Homo sapiens: one gene and its partner. The protein of the gene in region 1 purifies or fractionates together with the protein of each later gene. This does not show direct contact. Each region holds a gene or a part of one and is shown in the gene's direction. Other genes may lie near its edges.

Evidence for each region.
Region 2: the proteins of SLC31A1 (region 1) and STX7 purify together in Homo sapiens (affinity purification with mass spectrometry; 5 studies listed by BioGRID and IntAct, with this or other methods). This does not show direct contact.

What each region holds. Positions count from the first base shown.
Region 1 is NC_000009.12:113,215,656-113,225,235, forward strand, and holds the start of SLC31A1 (high affinity copper uptake protein 1), read left to right. Parts: upstream 1-5,888; 5' UTR 5,889-6,023; intron 6,024-9,580. Other genes in the region: FKBP15 (FK506-binding protein 15), read right to left, coding at 5,536-5,588.
Region 2 is NC_000006.12:132,468,117-132,475,116, reverse strand, and holds part of STX7 (syntaxin-7), read left to right. Parts: intron 1-2,741; coding exon 2,742-2,835; intron 2,836-3,516; coding exon 3,517-3,654; intron 3,655-4,490; coding exon 4,491-4,543; intron 4,544-5,069; coding exon 5,070-5,166; intron 5,167-6,641; coding exon 6,642-6,714; intron 6,715-7,000. UniProt on the Homo sapiens protein: May be involved in protein trafficking from the plasma membrane to the early endosome (EE) as well as in homotypic fusion of endocytic organelles. Mediates the endocytic trafficking from early endosomes to late endosomes and lysosomes.

The sequences.
Region 1 (9,580 bases):
TTTTTTTTTTTTGAGATGCAGTCTCACTCTGTCGCCCAGGCAGGAGTGCAGTGGCCCAATCTCGGCTCACTACAACCTCCGCCTCCTGGGTTCAAGCGATTCACATGCCTCAGCCTCCCAAATTGCTAGGATTACAGGCGTGCATCACCATGCCCTGCTAATTTCTGTATTTTTTAGTAGAAACAGGGTTTTGCTATGTTGGCCAGGCTGGTTGCAAACTCCTGGCCTCAAGTGATCCACCCGCCTCAGCCTCCCAAAATGCTGGGATTATAGGTGTGAGCCATTGCAACTGACCAAGAGAATATTTTTGAATATTAAGAGAATTACCAAAATGTGACACGGAGACACGAAGGGAGGAATTTTGCTGTTGGCAAAATGATGCCAATAGACTCACTCAACACGGGGTTGGACACAACCTTTATTTTGTGAAAAAAAAAAAAAAAAAAATCTGCAAGGCACAATAAAGCAAACCGAAAAAAAAAAAAAGGGGGTATGCCCAGTGTCTGGTATGTAACAGGCTCAGTAAATGAATTCAAAGTCTAGTCTGGCTCTGAGCACTTCTTCTCCAAAGGCATCCTTAGTTTAGGTGAAGTAAACATTGAAACTTCCCAACAAGTTATTTTGGCTTTTCAGGTTTTTTTAAAACAAGTTTTATGTATAGAGAAATATGCACTAGCATTTTACAAAATAAATTTTATATGACTTGAAACTATTACCTTCTTTTCTCAAAGTAGTCTAATGTAAGTTTAAGTTTCCTGTAAATAGGCCAGAAATGCCTACTGTAAAGGACTAAGAGGTTTAAATGAGATTGTAAACGCAATGCTTGAGTGAGAGCAGCGCTGGCCTAAAAAGACATCACCAAATGCTTATGGAATTTAGAAGACAGCAAGATTTGTCCTTTCAGGCAGGAAAATTCGGGCAAATTGCCTAAAGAATAAGATTCTGGAAGAGTTGGGTTTCACTATCTTTAACACAGTGAAAAATGTACAAAGCTTAGCACCTAGTTAAGATAACATAGCTTATGCACAGATTACTGATAAGAAATGAATGTCCTTGTTAGCTTCAGTAAACCATGAGTATTGGGCTTGCTGTTTTAATTTTGCAGGTATAGCCTTTTTAAAAGGAAAGACAAGAGTGTCATAAGTGAACTGTGTTTCCATAGATGTTCTAAAGACCAGCCAACTGAAGACTACAAAGTCGATCCAAAAGCCAGGTCAACCTAATTAGTTTTCAGATTAATTCCATTTTCTTTTTTTTTTTTTTTTTTGAGACGGAATTTTGCTCTTGGCGTCCAGGCTGGAGTGCAATGGCAGGATCTCGGCTGTGCAACCTCCACCTCCAGGCTTCAAGCGATTCTCCTGCCTCAGCCTCCTGAGCACCCGAGATTACAGGTGCCCGCCACCAGGCCTGGCTAATTTTTGTATTTTTAGTAGAGATGGGGTTTCACCACATTGGCCAGGCTGGTCTTGCACTCCTGACCTCAGGTGATCCACCTGCCTCAGCCTCCCAAAGTGCTGGGATTACAGGTGTGAGCCACCACGCCCAGTTTTTTTTTTTTTTTTTTTTTTTTTTAATGAGACGGAGTCTTGCTTTGTCACCCAGGCTGGAGTGCAGTGGCACGACCTTGGCTCACTGCAACCTCTGCCTCCCAGATTCAAGCGATTCTCCTACCTCAGCCTCCCACGTAGCTGGGATTATAGGCACCTGCCACCACACCCAGTTAATTTTTGTATGTTTGTAGAGACGGGGTTTCATTGTGTTGGCCAGGCTGGTCTCGAACTCCTGACCTCATGATCCACCTGCGTTGGCCTCCCAAAGTGCTGGGATTACAAGCGTGAACCACCACGCACAGTCCCATTTTCTATTAATATCTTTAATGGACTCTGCATCAACTTGGGAGATAAGTTACTTGTAAATTTTTAGCAGGGCATGGTGGCTCACTCTCAGAGGCTGAGACAGGAGGACTGCTTGAGGCCAGGAGTTCAAGACTAGCCTGAGCAATATAGCAAGAACCCATCTTTACAAAAAATTAAAAATTAGCCAGGCGTGGTGGCATGCGCCTGTAATCCCAGCTACTTGGGAGACTGAGGCAAGTGGATTGCTTGAGCCCAGGAGTTCGAAGCTGCAGTGAGCCATGACTGCACCAGTGCACTCCAGCCTGGGCAACAGAGAAAAACCCTGTCTCAAAAAAATAAATAAATAAACAAAAATAAATAAATTTTTAGATTTTTCCACTACTAAGGAACTCTCAAATGTACACAATCTCCCTATGTTGGCAAGAATGAGCTTGCTAACTCTGGACTTGAATCTATATTTATAATTCATAGGAAAAGTCATGACAGAATTAACTACATTAAAAAAAAATGTTAGACAATGCATTTAGTCGCCAAGGACCTCACCTCACCTCAGTTTTATATTTTCTTTCTCATCAAAAACAAAAACACATGCATTTATACTGTATCAATGTATTTTAATAAACAGAGATTCTTTTTGTTGGTAAAGTATTAATACTTTTTTAAACAAACTGACATCAAACATCCATTTCAATAATAACAACAATAGCACATAGGCAGGTCTGGTAGAATCTGCCTACCTGATTTCAGATCCAGGCTCTATTACTTTCTAGCTGCATGATCTTGGGCAATTTACCTCTCTGAGCCTTTCCCATTTGTAAAACGGATATAATAATTAATAGTACCTCATAGAGAGGAGTAAATACAATTATATATATATATATATATATATATATATATATATACATTTCTCATTTGTAAAATGGGCATAGTAGGTAAAATTATTTCATAGAGTAGAAGGGAGGAATAAATACAATAATGTCTATGTATTTCTTAGAACAGTGTATGGCATTAAGTAAGCACAGAGTACGTATTTATATACTTGTGAACACATCCTATTATCTCAAAATGTGGTTCAACTCAGATACCCCTGCAAGGGTGAAAGCATGCTTGATTGACACGGAAGTTGACCTGCAACCATAAACTGGTATTAGCATTAACATTAAAACTACAGAACTGGCAAAGGTCTCAAAGTTTATCTAGGTCAAACCTCATTATTGAATAGGTTGGGGTATGGAGGGACAAGGATGGAAGATAATCTGTCCAAAGTCACATTCCTAACTGGGGATAGAATCAACATTTGAATCTAGGCTTTTTCCTATCTTTTACAGAACTCAAAATGCTTTCTGATGATCGGTTAATTTATCTTTCTACCATCTTTAGACTGGTGATTTATCATTACTATGCTAATCGGATCTGCCTACACATACCTTTATAATCTAAAACAAATATATACATAATTGGCCCCTTAAAAATGCTTTGTGATTATTATTCCTGGATTGATTTTATTCTACTACTAAAATAAAAGTTTCTTAGGGGCAGAAACTGTGCCTTATTCCTATCTGGATTAGCTGAAGCCAAGTACTATTAGTTCATTACTATTACTTCCCACAACGGTGAGGAATGGGCTAAAACAAACTAACAAACAAAAACAAGGCTCCTGATTACTACTTCTAGATTAATAGTAAACTCTAAGAGGCCTAGAAACTCAGAAGGCAGATTATCAGATACTCCTACTTCTATTAGGCTTGAATATCCTTCATGAAATCAAGCAAATCATGTGTTTAAATCAAGAGACTTGGAACTTAAGCAAGTATACTTACAGTAATATATGGCTATAAAAGAGGAAGTGAAAAGTAGCTGCAGTATTCACTGTCATATGTTCTACTTCCTTAGAGAAAACCAAAAAAGGAATAGCTAAATCAGAGAATTGTGGTGAAACTTTCTGTATTCTCAGTGTTAAATTTGATTTGGTTTTCCTGATAACTGTGGGGAACAAAAATAAACTATAACTTTCCTCAGTATGTCTTTTACCATCAAATTAGCTGTTGTCTATGTCTAGGAGCACAGTCACATGCCTAGAATTCAAGTGTCTCAGATCCTTGAGAAGCCTGCTCAGGAAAAAAGAATAGTTGAGCCACCAAGAATTTATCTCTGGCCAGGAATCTGGAAAAGAGCACATGGCTGTCATTACCTATCCCATAATTTTCAGTCAGCTTGGACTGATTGTTGCATGAAAATTGGGAGCCCTAACATTACAGACTTCTCCCAAATACTTTCACATAGTGAAGAATGCGAATTTAAAGTGGAATAGGGAAAAAAGGAACAAAAGCACAGCTTAACTGTAAAATAACTGAGAAACGGAAAGAACTCAAAGTGGAACTAAGTGAATGCAGGCCATCTAAAGACGGGGTAGGAAGGGAACAGAGTGGTGAGAGTGAAAAAGACTAAAAGGTAGGTAATATAGAGCTAGTCAGTGTAAATCAAAAATTCCTACTTAAGGACAAAAGAAGGCCAGTGTCATTTTATGGTCATTCATCTATTAACTCATTTGTTTATGTATTGTCTATGACTACTCTCACCCTACAAGGCAGAACTGAGTATTTGTGGTTGCAATAGAAACCACATGGCCCAACAGATCTGGAAGCAACTTAAGGGCAGGCACAGCAGTTTAATCATTTTTGTAACCTCTTAGCATTTAGCAGAATAAGGGGCATATGTGGTGCATTTGTCATTTTTCCAGTACATTCTTCAGCACGCACAAAATTTGTTAAGCATATGTTCAAAGAAAAGCTCTGCAATGATCAGAGCTTGGTAGCTCACAAGTTTGGAGGAAGTCAAGCTGTCCACTGGCACAACACAATGGAAAAGGCTAAACTGACTACTAAAAGAGACAAAACCCTTCCTCTCTTTAAAGATTTCTATTCCAGGCTGGTATATATTAATATAATGCTTGGGGAAACTGGAGAATGACAGAAGTCTGTTACGTTGGTTTTAAGCTTTAAGCTTTACAAAGTGCAATTTCGCAGCTATTATTCATTCAACAGCCACTTCCTGAGCACTCACTATGTGCTAGGTACCATGCTGCATGCTAGACAGAAATGAACACCATAAGCAGTCCCTGTCCGGTGAGGACTCATAATCTAATAGGTGCGGGGTATAAGAATAGAGGCAAACACACCTAGCTGCAGGAATAAGGAAGAGAAAGCAATTCATTCTGCCTGAGGTTGCAGAAGGAAAAGCATCCAAAACGTGACATCCGAGCTGGGCCTTGAAGAATGCTAGAGCTGACCCACCAAGGCCTGGTTCTAAAGTGTCTTCGCCTTCTCCATGGAGAAAAGAAGTCTCACATCAGCCCCAGCTGACTCCTATAAAAATTCTGAGGCAGGAAGTCTCATCAGCAATCATTCCCATTTCACCGGAGAAATTGTGACCCAGAATGCAAAAGGCAAACCCAGGGCTATCTTCCCGCCAAGAGAGATGCCGGGTCCCGAACCTCAGATCGGCAGGGTCAGCACAGTTGCAAGTTCTGCCCAGATTCTGAGAGGTGTAGAGCACCGGAATGTGGCAAGGGTCTCCCCCCGGAAGTTGGGAAAAGGCCTGAGAAGAGATCGACCCCCCTCCAACAATCCGCCGGTATCTCTCAGCCACGCCCTCCAGCGCATACTTCTCAGTCACTCACCCGCCGCTCGGCGAGAGGAAATCGGTGTCGTCCTCGTCCCCCGCACCGAACATTGCGTTGGCTTTCACCGGGTTGCGGGGAGGAAGCTGGGTATTCCCAGAGTCCCAGGGCCTGTCACCGCCGACGTCGTAAAATGCCGCGGCGGCGTGCTGCTTTCCGGCAGGGCGAACTCCAGCACGGTCTCTGGACCGAAAGTAGACTGGGCTCTGGAGAAGGTGGGGCAAAGGCAAATGAGAGGCTCGCGCGGGCACGAGCGCCGAGTGACGTCAGGCCTCTCCAGCCCGCAGCGGGGCGGAGCTTCACAGCCCCTTGCAGGGATTGGTCGGTAATGCTAGGGGGCGGGAGGGGGCGGGAAATCCTCGGCCTCGGTGGCGGTGGTGGACACGTCGAGCCGGGTAGAAGTGGAGGGGCCGTTCGAAGAGTCGTGAGGGGGTGACGGGTTAAGATTCGGAGAGAGAGGTGCTAGTGGCTGGACTTGACCTGGAAAGGTAAGGCTTCTCTCGGCCCCTCTTTCGCACCCCTGTGCATGGGTACCGTCCTTTTCCCAGCGGGACAAGGACCTTCCTCGCCGCTTTCCTCAGCTCCGCGGAAGGAGAAAGAGCTCGGGACTGGAGGGTTAAAGACTGGGGCTTCGGCCCGGCCCCTGCAGTGGCATAGCCAGAGTGACCTTGGGCCGGGGTGCTCGGTGCCTCAGTTTCCCCGTGTATGCAACCGGCCATTTGTCCAGTTCTTCCATGTGCCTGCTGGTCCAGAAGATTTTAGAGCTCAGAGGCCATGGATTTCAATCCCGGCCTCCTCGTAATCTCAGAATTTACAGATAGGGAGACGAAGGAACTAAGCACCCGGGTGACTAGTCCGAGGTCACAAAGAGTAAAGGGCAGACTGAGACTGGATTCCTCGTCCTTTGATTCAGGACATAGTGAGCTAGTGGGTGAACAAGAACCTTATCAGCCCTTAAGCACTGTGTGCCCTTACAGAGTGACTATTGAAAGACTGTAGCATACACCTCGAGGAAAGTCCCCTTTCTAGAGTCCACCTGTATTCTACGCGGATGAGGTGCAGAAGAGCTAAGATATTCTGGCGGTGGGTGATGGAAAGGAGGATACTTTGGAGGCAGACACATCCCCACCCCAACTTTGGCGTGGGTTTCCCTGGGTCTTCCTGCGACAGCCCTAAATCAACATCAATTGTGGCGGACTCCTCTGCCTCCAGTTTCCACCCTATCTGTATCTTACATAAGTATTTCTTTGGTTAACCTGGTATCATTCTCGAAACAATCCTGGGGTAGTCCTGGCTTAGACAAGGTGTGGCTAAGGAGATAGTGTCCCAGCGTAGCGTCCACAGACTCACTGGAGTTCTTGGGCTTCCCCTCACAGTCAGGTTGGTACTACAGGTGTCCCTTACGTGAATGTTTCAATCTGTCAGTATGAAATTGAAATGAAATGATTGGTAGCTCCCTCCCAGAGAACTTTGCACCTCCTGGCAAAGATGTTAAAGCAGCGAAGGCTCACAGTTGGAATGATGCAACTGGAATCTAAGCACTAGAACCGGAACTGGAACTAGAATCTAAGGACTAGCACTAGAACTGTTGCAGTAGCTCTGTTTAGTGTGTGAACTTGGCTACCTCTTGGAGGTGTTGGGGGAGTAACTGGATTAAGTACCATGGCACTTTCTAATCCCTCTCCCCAACACCGGTCACTGTGATTGCAGCACTGAAACATCTAAATGTTTAACAGAAAGAGCTTGCTAGCCCCTGGCTTACATTATCTATGGTATTTTTAACATGGAATGAATACTTAAAGTCACTTGCAAAGCAGTCTCACTGCAGAATCTTTCTAGGTGTTTATGACATGTCCTTCCAGCCTTTTCTTTAAAAAAAAAAAATGGCCAAGGGAATATTTGAACTCTTATCTTGTATTCTTGGGTGGAGCTGATTTTATCCTGGATGTTTAAGTAGCTTTTGTAGGTACTCAGGAATCCTAAAATCAATAGCCTTTTTGGTGATTGGAACATCACGAACATGCATACGCAGATTATCACTGTAGAAACACAGCTGCTGATTCTCATTAGCAGTATGAGGAGGAGGAAGATGATGGTGAGTCTTGCCAGGCTTTGAACTGCAGGACTGGGTGCACCTAAAAAAAAAAAAAAAGAAAGCCACTGTCTTCCTAAATTCGTGTATCTTCAGATTGGTAATACTGGACTAGGAATCAGGAAATCTGAATTCCTGTCCCAGCCCTTATAACTCACTCTGAGTTTGGGCCAGGCTCCCTAAGCACTGTAAAATGAGTGGATTAGACCTGGACTTCTACTGAGTAACTGCTGGGGATACAAAGGTAAGTAAGGCACAACCTTGATCTCAAGTTTAAAGTAAGCATTTTTGTTTATTTGTTTTGCTTAAGTATACAACTTTTAGAATACTCATAAAATATATTGTCAACCCCCAGAAGATTGGCCAGGAAGCAGCAATTTTTTTTCTCCACCCTCCACTCCCCTTACTCCCTCAGGGAAGCAGCAATTTTAATAATTATTTTCAAATTATCAGCAATTTTGCAACAGAGATGACAGTCTTTATATACGAGTATACCCATACTAATCTGTAATGATGCATGCATTTTAAAATTAGTAGTTTAAAGTTATAACCAAGTTATATCAGGCATAATGATAGGAATATGAATTAAATGCAGGTTCTAGGGGATCTATAACATTCCGTTCACTCAGTCACTGAAAGCAGACTTAGGGCCATTAGTTGGTTAACTGAAGAAGTAAGTTAAAGCAGGGAATCATACAGATAATAGTTATATGCATAACATTTTAACGAACACATAAACATTCTTTTGCCATTCTTTTAACATAAGGCCTCAGCCTTTTCTTGGAGTGTAGGACCCTGTTGCCTGTTTTTATAAGTAAAGCTTTATTAGAACACAGCCTTTCTCATTTGTTTATGTATTGTCTATGACTCCTCTTACCCTCCAAGGCAGAATTGAATATTTGTGATTGCAACAGAAACCACATGGCCTGCAACATCTAAAATGTTTACTTTTGGCCCTTTATAGAAAGAGCTTGCTAGCCCCTGGCCTACGTTATCTATGGTATTTTTAACATGGAATGAATACTTAAAGTCACTTGCAAAGCAGTCTCACTGCAGAATCTTTCTAGGTGTTTATGAAATGTCCTTCCAGACTTTTCTGTTGTCTCCCACACCTAACAGCAAGTTTATGTGTTATCTGTATGCTCACTTTTTTTTTTTTTTTTGAGACAGAGTTTCGCTCTTGTTGCCCAGGCTTGAATGCAATGGCACAATCTCGGCTCACCACAACCTCCACCTCCCGGGTTCAAGCGATTCTCCAGCCTCACCCTCCCGAGTAGCTGGGATTACAGGCATGTGCCACCATGCCCGGCTAATTTTGTATTTTTAGTAGAGACGGGGTTTCTCCATGTTGGTCAGGCTGGTCTGGAACTCCCGACCTCAGGTGATCCACCCGCCTTGGCCTCCCAAAGTGCTAGGATTAGAGGCGTGGGCCAACGCACCCGGCCTTGTGTGCTCACTTTTATCTGGTCTTTCGAAAGCATTCAGTGTGGTGTTTTAGAAATAACTACTAGAGAGTCTATGTAGTACAGTAGTTAAGTACTTGAGCTCTGGAGCCAAATTGCTTTGCCACTTATTAGTTGTATAGGCCATAGACAAGTTACTCAGTTTTTGCCTTTGTAAAACAGGCATAATGGTAGTATCCATTTCTAGGTTTCTTGTGAATATTATAGGAGTTAATTCATGTAAAGCATTTAGAACAGTGCCTGGCAGGTAGTAAGTACTCAGTGTTAATTGCTGCTGTCATTTTTCTCTTCTCATTTATACTTCATTGCTTTACATAGTATTTACGTACTTTCAGTAATAAGCACAACTGGCATAAATAGGTTTGTGAATAAACACACTGTCACCATTGATAAGCACACTTCACAGAGGGGGAACCAGAAGTGTTGTTCCCATCACATTGGAGAATAGCCTAATGGTGTGATGTCAGTTAAATTGGATAAGAGAGTTCTG
Region 2 (7,000 bases), on another chromosome or scaffold:
AGGCTTACCCTATCAAAGCAGAATTTCTTTAGTTGCATTTCTTACAGTTTTTAGGTAGGTTGTTTTTGACAGCTGTTGAAAAATTATACTCTAGTATCTCAATTTATGTGATTTACTTTCCATAGCTAAAAATCCCCGCAGTCACCAGAGTTTTATTTGGTTTAGATCCAATACATAACCAGCTACGTGAGCTGTCTCCCCACAAGTTTATACCTACATCCTTGAATTTCAGAGAGCATTAGCTTCCGTTTAAAAAAAAGTTATAATGAATTATATAGTACATATTCCAGTAAATTAATATGCTGTTAGAAGACCAGCAGTCATAGTGATAATATTTTGTCTGTGGTATGTTGTGGATTTTACAGAGTATTTTTACATATTTTATCATTTAAACCTTACAGAATTAGAGTAAGAGAAATAGACCAAAAGAACTGTTTCCATTTTGTTCATGTCTCTTACGGGTTTAACGAGTTACCCAATGTCATTTAGAACTTAACTCTTAAATTTTATTTCAGTACTGTTACAGCTGTAAATTTCAAGTCACATATATCTAGTAAGCAATACTTCTAAACAACATTAACTATAGAGGGAAAACTGCAAAGAGGACGATATTAAAAGATAGGTAATAGGAATTCATATTTTTAGGAAGTACAATTTGAAGGACTTACAATTATCTCTAATTTATATTTTATTTTTCCACAGTGGGTAAGTGTCAGAATGGTAAAAATGCTCCAAATCTAAATAATAAACCACAATTCATTAAACTAAAGTAAAATGGAATAGAAGTACATAATTCATAAAAGTTCTAATATTTTGATAGAGTTAATAATGAAGATTCTGAATATATATCCGTAGTCACTAAGGATTTTTTTTTTTTTTTTTTTTTTTTGAGACAGGATCTCATGCTGTCACCCAGGCTGGAGTGCAGTGACATTATCACGGTTCACTGCAGCCTGGACCTCCTAGGCTCAATCGATTCTCCCACCTCAGCCTACTGTGTAGCTGGGAATACAGGCACATCCACCATGCCTGGCTAATTTTTGTATTTTTTGTAGAGATGGTGTTTTGCCATGTTGCCGGCACTGGTCTTCAATTCTGGGCTCAGACAGTCCACCCACCTCACCCTCCCAGAGTGCTGTGATTACAGGCATGAGCCACCATGTCCAGCCTAAGGTCTTCTTTTTAAAACTTTGACTATATTATGATTTCCAGAGATTTACAAAAATGCATTAAAGATAGGGTATTTGGTAAATAGAGATAGAAATAGATTTTAATTACCCTTTGTCAGTCAAATACAGATCCCTATTCTTAAGCATATTCTTATACAATATCTCATTATTTTAAAGGACCCCAAGTGTGACCAGACCATATTTAAAATGAGATGAAATATATAAGAGGTACTGATGTTGTGATTTGTAAAACATCACAATTAATATGAGCTTTTTTTTAGTGTCATGTTTTTAAGTTGGAAATCTTTTCAATTTATAAGATAGCTAGATAAAATATGGATATGTAGTCAGCACTCTGTATCCATAGATTATATATCCCCAGATTCAACCAACTGCAGGTCAAAAATATTCAAGAAAAAAAAAAAAACAACACAATAATAAAAAAAAAAACTGAACTATAAAATATAGCAACTATTTACATAGCATTTACATTATTGTATTGGGTATTATAAATAATCTAGAGATGATTTAAAGATATGGGAGGATATGCATAGGTTATATGCAAATGCTATACCTTTTTATATCAGGGACTTGAGCATCAGCGGATTTTGGTATCCACAGGGGTCCTGGAACCAATCTGCAGATACTGAGGGATGACTATAATTTACTTCTTTTATTTATTGTGTTCTTTCCCTTTACAAGGAAATGCCATTATTTTTTCCAGCGTAAACTTAAATAATAGTAAATTTGTACCAATATTGCCTCTTTCCTTTTTATTTTTATTTTTTGAGACAAGAGTTTTCCTCTGTTGCTCAGGCTGGAGTGCAGTGGTGCAATCTCAGCTCATTGCATCCTCCACCTCCCATGTTCAAGTGATTCTTCTGCCTCAGCCACCCAAGTAGCTGGGATCACAGGCATGCTCCACCACACCTACCTAATTTTTGTTATTTTTGGTAGAGATGGGGTTTCGCCATGTTGGCCAGGCACGTCTCAAATTCCTGGCCTCAAGTGATCCGCCTGCCTCGGCCTCTCAAAGTGTTGGGATGACAGGTGTGAGCCAGCATGCCTGGCCCCTCCCCCCCGCCTTTTTTTTAAGTATCTATAGCATATACATGTTCACATAGAGAAATAAGAGAGGCCAGATATAACTAGATCTGGGAACTGGGCAAAGTCTAAGGTAACAAATCTTTTCTTGCTTACCTGACCTTCCAGGTGTGAGATGCAGATAAAGGGCTTCCACATCCCCAGTATCTCAAACATAAAGGATCAGACATCTAACAGTCTCTCCTTCAGGTTCCCTCTGATTCAAGTCATCTGTGTTTCTAAATGGCCGTTGAATTGATTTCTCTAAGCTTGCCTACCCTGTGTGAGTGAAGAACCTGACATATAATATTTGCTCATTATTTATCAAAGAATAGGATATGAAATTTTTTTTGATAGAGAAAGTTGAGAGCCAGTTTATGAAAAGGCAATTTTTGTACAACTGTTTATCAGTGTTGATTCAAAAGGCAGAGTTGAAGCTTAAAGAAGTATATTAGTCCTTTGGCTGTAATGCGTGTTTTCTCACTTTAGGCAACAGAAGCAGCAGTATACTAACCAGCTTGCCAAAGAAACAGATAAGTACATTAAAGAGTTTGGATCTCTGCCCACCACCCCCAGTGAACAGGTATCAAGCTTTAAGACACATTGTTGATGTATTGAATGTGAAAAAAACCCAGTGCACTGTAGGATCTTTGAACTGTTACGCTAGAAAGGAAATTATGCTAGAAAGGAAATCAAAAATAATTCTGTTTGAGATTAGTTCACAGAACACAAAACTATATTTAATTGCTCAGGTAGTATCCTGTGGTTCAATAAAGCAAAAATTATTTCCATGCATTTGCCCTGACCCATAATTAAGTTAGTTCTCAGAAAATGCTTCCTGAGTAATTATTTCCTGGCCTTCCGGGGCTGACTGCGTGGAACATGCAGGCTCATTCAAGATGTGAGGTGTCCTGGGGGCACATATTTATTTCCCTGCTTATTTAATGGAAGTTATTACTTAGCTAAAAGTATAAGGCTTTATTTGCCTGAAAAAGAATTACTTTAAAATAGCCTCAAAATAATAAGCTAGTTTTTAGCAGCGTGAAAACCTGAGGTGAGAAATCCAGCATAATGGGTCTTTTGCCTCAAGTTAAATATGCACAGTATTTGACATACTATCAGAATGTTACTGAGAGTTAATCTGTAAGGCCCTGTAATTGGGGAGTAAGTGAAAACTTCAGGGTTAAATAAAGAGCCAACTACCGCAAATTCAGTTGAACTTCACAGCTAGATTCTAGTTGGCTTTTTCTTCTCTTTCCTCTAGCGTCAAAGGAAAATACAGAAGGATCGCTTAGTGGCAGAGTTCACAACATCACTGACAAACTTCCAGAAGGTCCAGAGGCAGGCTGCTGAGCGAGAGAAAGAGTTTGTTGCTCGAGTAAGAGCCAGTTCCAGAGTGTCTGTAAGTATTTTAAAAGACATTCTAGAAATGAACATGGTTACTTGCTAAGGGTCCCATAAAAGTCTATAGTAGCATAATTTTTTAAGTCATAAAGATCTGTGAATATCTTGGAAATCAGCTCTTGAATATTTATTTTTATGCTTTCCTGCTCCATTTTTAGAAAAGGATGATAATTTTGTATTACGGTGGTGATTTTTTGTGTCATAGTACAGAAGATTACAGAGTATATAAAAATATAGAGACATATTTTGTCAAAAAAGATTAGGGATCAAATCCTGAGTAGTATTCTCACATCGTCTTGGTACTGAGGCTTTCTGCTTGTGTACACGCTAGTGTAGAAAGCACTTTCCTCCTGGATTACACCAAGATGACGGAGATGAATGGCGCAAGTATGTTGTATCAATATTGAAAATGAACATGAGCCTGGAGAAAATAAATGAAAGGAAGCTTTACAATAGAATTTTGAATTAATCTAATTTTAAATTCCCTTAGAAACTATCATGAGTTATTTTCTTATTCATTAACATATGGATTCCAAGACTACATTAAGCTTTAACTAAATAATACTTATTTGATCCTTGAGAATATTTAGTGAATTCCTTTCTTGTCTACTTAGAATATAAAATTACTTATAATTATATTATTACTTGAAGCAGTTGACCTGAAAAATTAGAACAAGAACTTCTTTCTCTCTGTCTCTACACACACACACACATACACACAGACACGTACATAAATCAGTTTAGTTTATTATAAGGGAAAATATGAGTGTTTATTTTTTCTCATTTTTGCTTTTTTTGCCCCTTCTCATTCCATCCTGTTACTAAATTATTCAGGGCAGTTTTCCTGAGGACAGCTCAAAAGAAAGGAATCTTGTATCCTGGGAAAGGTAAGAAATACAAAACATTTTACAGATCAAAAGGTAATTTTTCAAAGTTTATACATTAAGGTCCCTGGAACAGAATTAAAGCTTTCAATATATTATATCATAAATATCCTAAGTTGTTTATATGTTGAAAACAGAGTAAATTTGAAAAAAATTTTAAGTAATTATAAAGTATTTATTACAAAATATATAAAGTTTTCCAAATAAATGTTTATGGACTTAATTATTAATATAGACATTCCCTTATATGAGGTTTAAATCAGCTGAGAAGAAATACCCAGTTGACAGATACAGCTTCCAATAATTAAGTAATAACTCTAAACTCACATTAGCTAAAATGATATAAGTGAAATGAAAAATGAATAAATTTTATTAATATATCTGTTATATTCTTAGAATTTTTTTGAGTAGTTCTGTGACTTTGGAGAATAAAATATCCTATTTAATGAATATATCTTAAATAGGAAATGAGTCCCATTGTTTTGAATACCAATCTTTGTTTTTTTCCACATTCATTTTTTTCTGTTAGCCAAACTCAACCTCAAGTGCAGGTGCAGGATGAAGAAATTACAGAGGATGACCTCCGTCTTATTCATGAGAGAGAATCTTCTATCAGGCAACTTGAAGTAAGGCTTACATTGTAGACTTGGGCTGCTGCTCTGGTCTTAGTGAGTTTGTTCTCAAGATGCTTAGGTAATGCTGGGAGAATGCATGAGACAGAAAAATTTTGTTTTCTTTTTGAGACAGTCTCCCTCTGTCACCCAGGCTGGAGTGCGGTGGTGGAATCTCGGCTCACTGCAACCTCCGCCTCCCAGCTTCAAGCGATTCTTGTGCCTCAGCTTGCTGAGTAGCTGGGATTACAGGCACGTGTCACCCCACCTGGCTAATTTTTTGTACTTTTAGCAGAGAAAGGGTTTCACCATGTTGGCCAGGCTGTTCTCAAACTCCTGGTCTCAAGTGATCTGCCTGCCTTGGCCTCCTAAAGTACTAGGATTATAGATGTGAGCCACCATGTCTGGCCCAGAGAAAGAAAATTAATGTATCAGTTTGGTAGCATTTGTAATGTATGAGTTGGAATAATTCCTTTTTTAAAAAAATAATATTGTCCTTACTGTTTGTGCTAGGACGAGGGATCATACTCCCTCCTACTGCAGCTTTTTAAAAATTATTATTGTTATATCAAGCCATCTATGGACCACCTTAGTATTGAGAAAATACCAGTGTAGAGATAAATGTCTGTCCAAGAGTCTGGATGTCTTCCCAGAGCACATGATACACATCATACCTGCATGAGTAAGACCTTTTATAAGGCCTTCAAAGAATTTTATTTCTCTTTACTATGTTTATGACATCAAAGAGATCTAAAGGATTTATTAAGTCATAGTTCTTATGGAACCTACTTAGTTCCTAGAAAGAAGGCTAATAATAGCTAACAATGGCTACAATTTATTGAAGACCTTCCATGTGCCAGGCACTTGTGGGATGAATTCTTTATGTTAATTATCTCATTTAGTCCTTATAAAAACTTTATGAAGCAGTTAATTGTGTCATTGAAGAAAAGTAAATTTATATTTAATCACCAAGTTTATAACTTCTTTATTCAGTAGTGACATTTCACTAATCCACTGCATGTTCAAATTATTAATGTGAGACTTTAAATTTACACCTAATGTTTTATTACTTTAAATTGTCAAATTGATGTGTAAATTTTACTAGAAATACATGCTAAGAATATTTTATACCCTTGTAAGTAGATACTGCTTGTGATAACAAAACTATCAGGTTGTATAAAATGAACTCAGCAATCCATGGCTCTTCTCTATTATAGATCCTTCATTTCCATTCATTTCCATCCTGCCTCGCTCACTTGGTATTTTTAATGCCACAAACTGATTTTAGAGAACTGGTGGCTATTGTTCAAATTCTTCTTAATTATTGTCAAATATTTTCCTGATATTTCCAAAGTTTATGTATTATATTTGTGTATTATAGATGCATGCTCACCCATGTGTGAGTAGTGGTTTGGGTTTTTAAAATTTTTCCTCTTTTATGGAATGGGGACTGAATTTCTGATTATAATAATATATGCGTTTTCTCTTAGGCTGATATTATGGATATTAATGAAATATTTAAAGATTTGGGAATGATGATTCATGAACAAGGAGATGTAATAGGTAAGACCTGCTGACTTAGATTTTGGAGGTGAGAGCAAGCTACATGCACTTTACCTGCTGTAACTTTCTCACAGAAGAGTAACCACTTTCTGTCCCTTTTTTGGTTTCCCTGGAACCAAAAGCATGGTCTATAAAACACAGTAAGCATCACCCTTGGCATTATCTAAAACAGATCTCATTTTTAACTCGTGCTGGTTGAAATAACCAGCTTCATTTATTTCAGAAGCCCAAATTTAATCAGGGCCTATTGCTGCCAAGACCATGGAAGGCACCATGAAACATTATT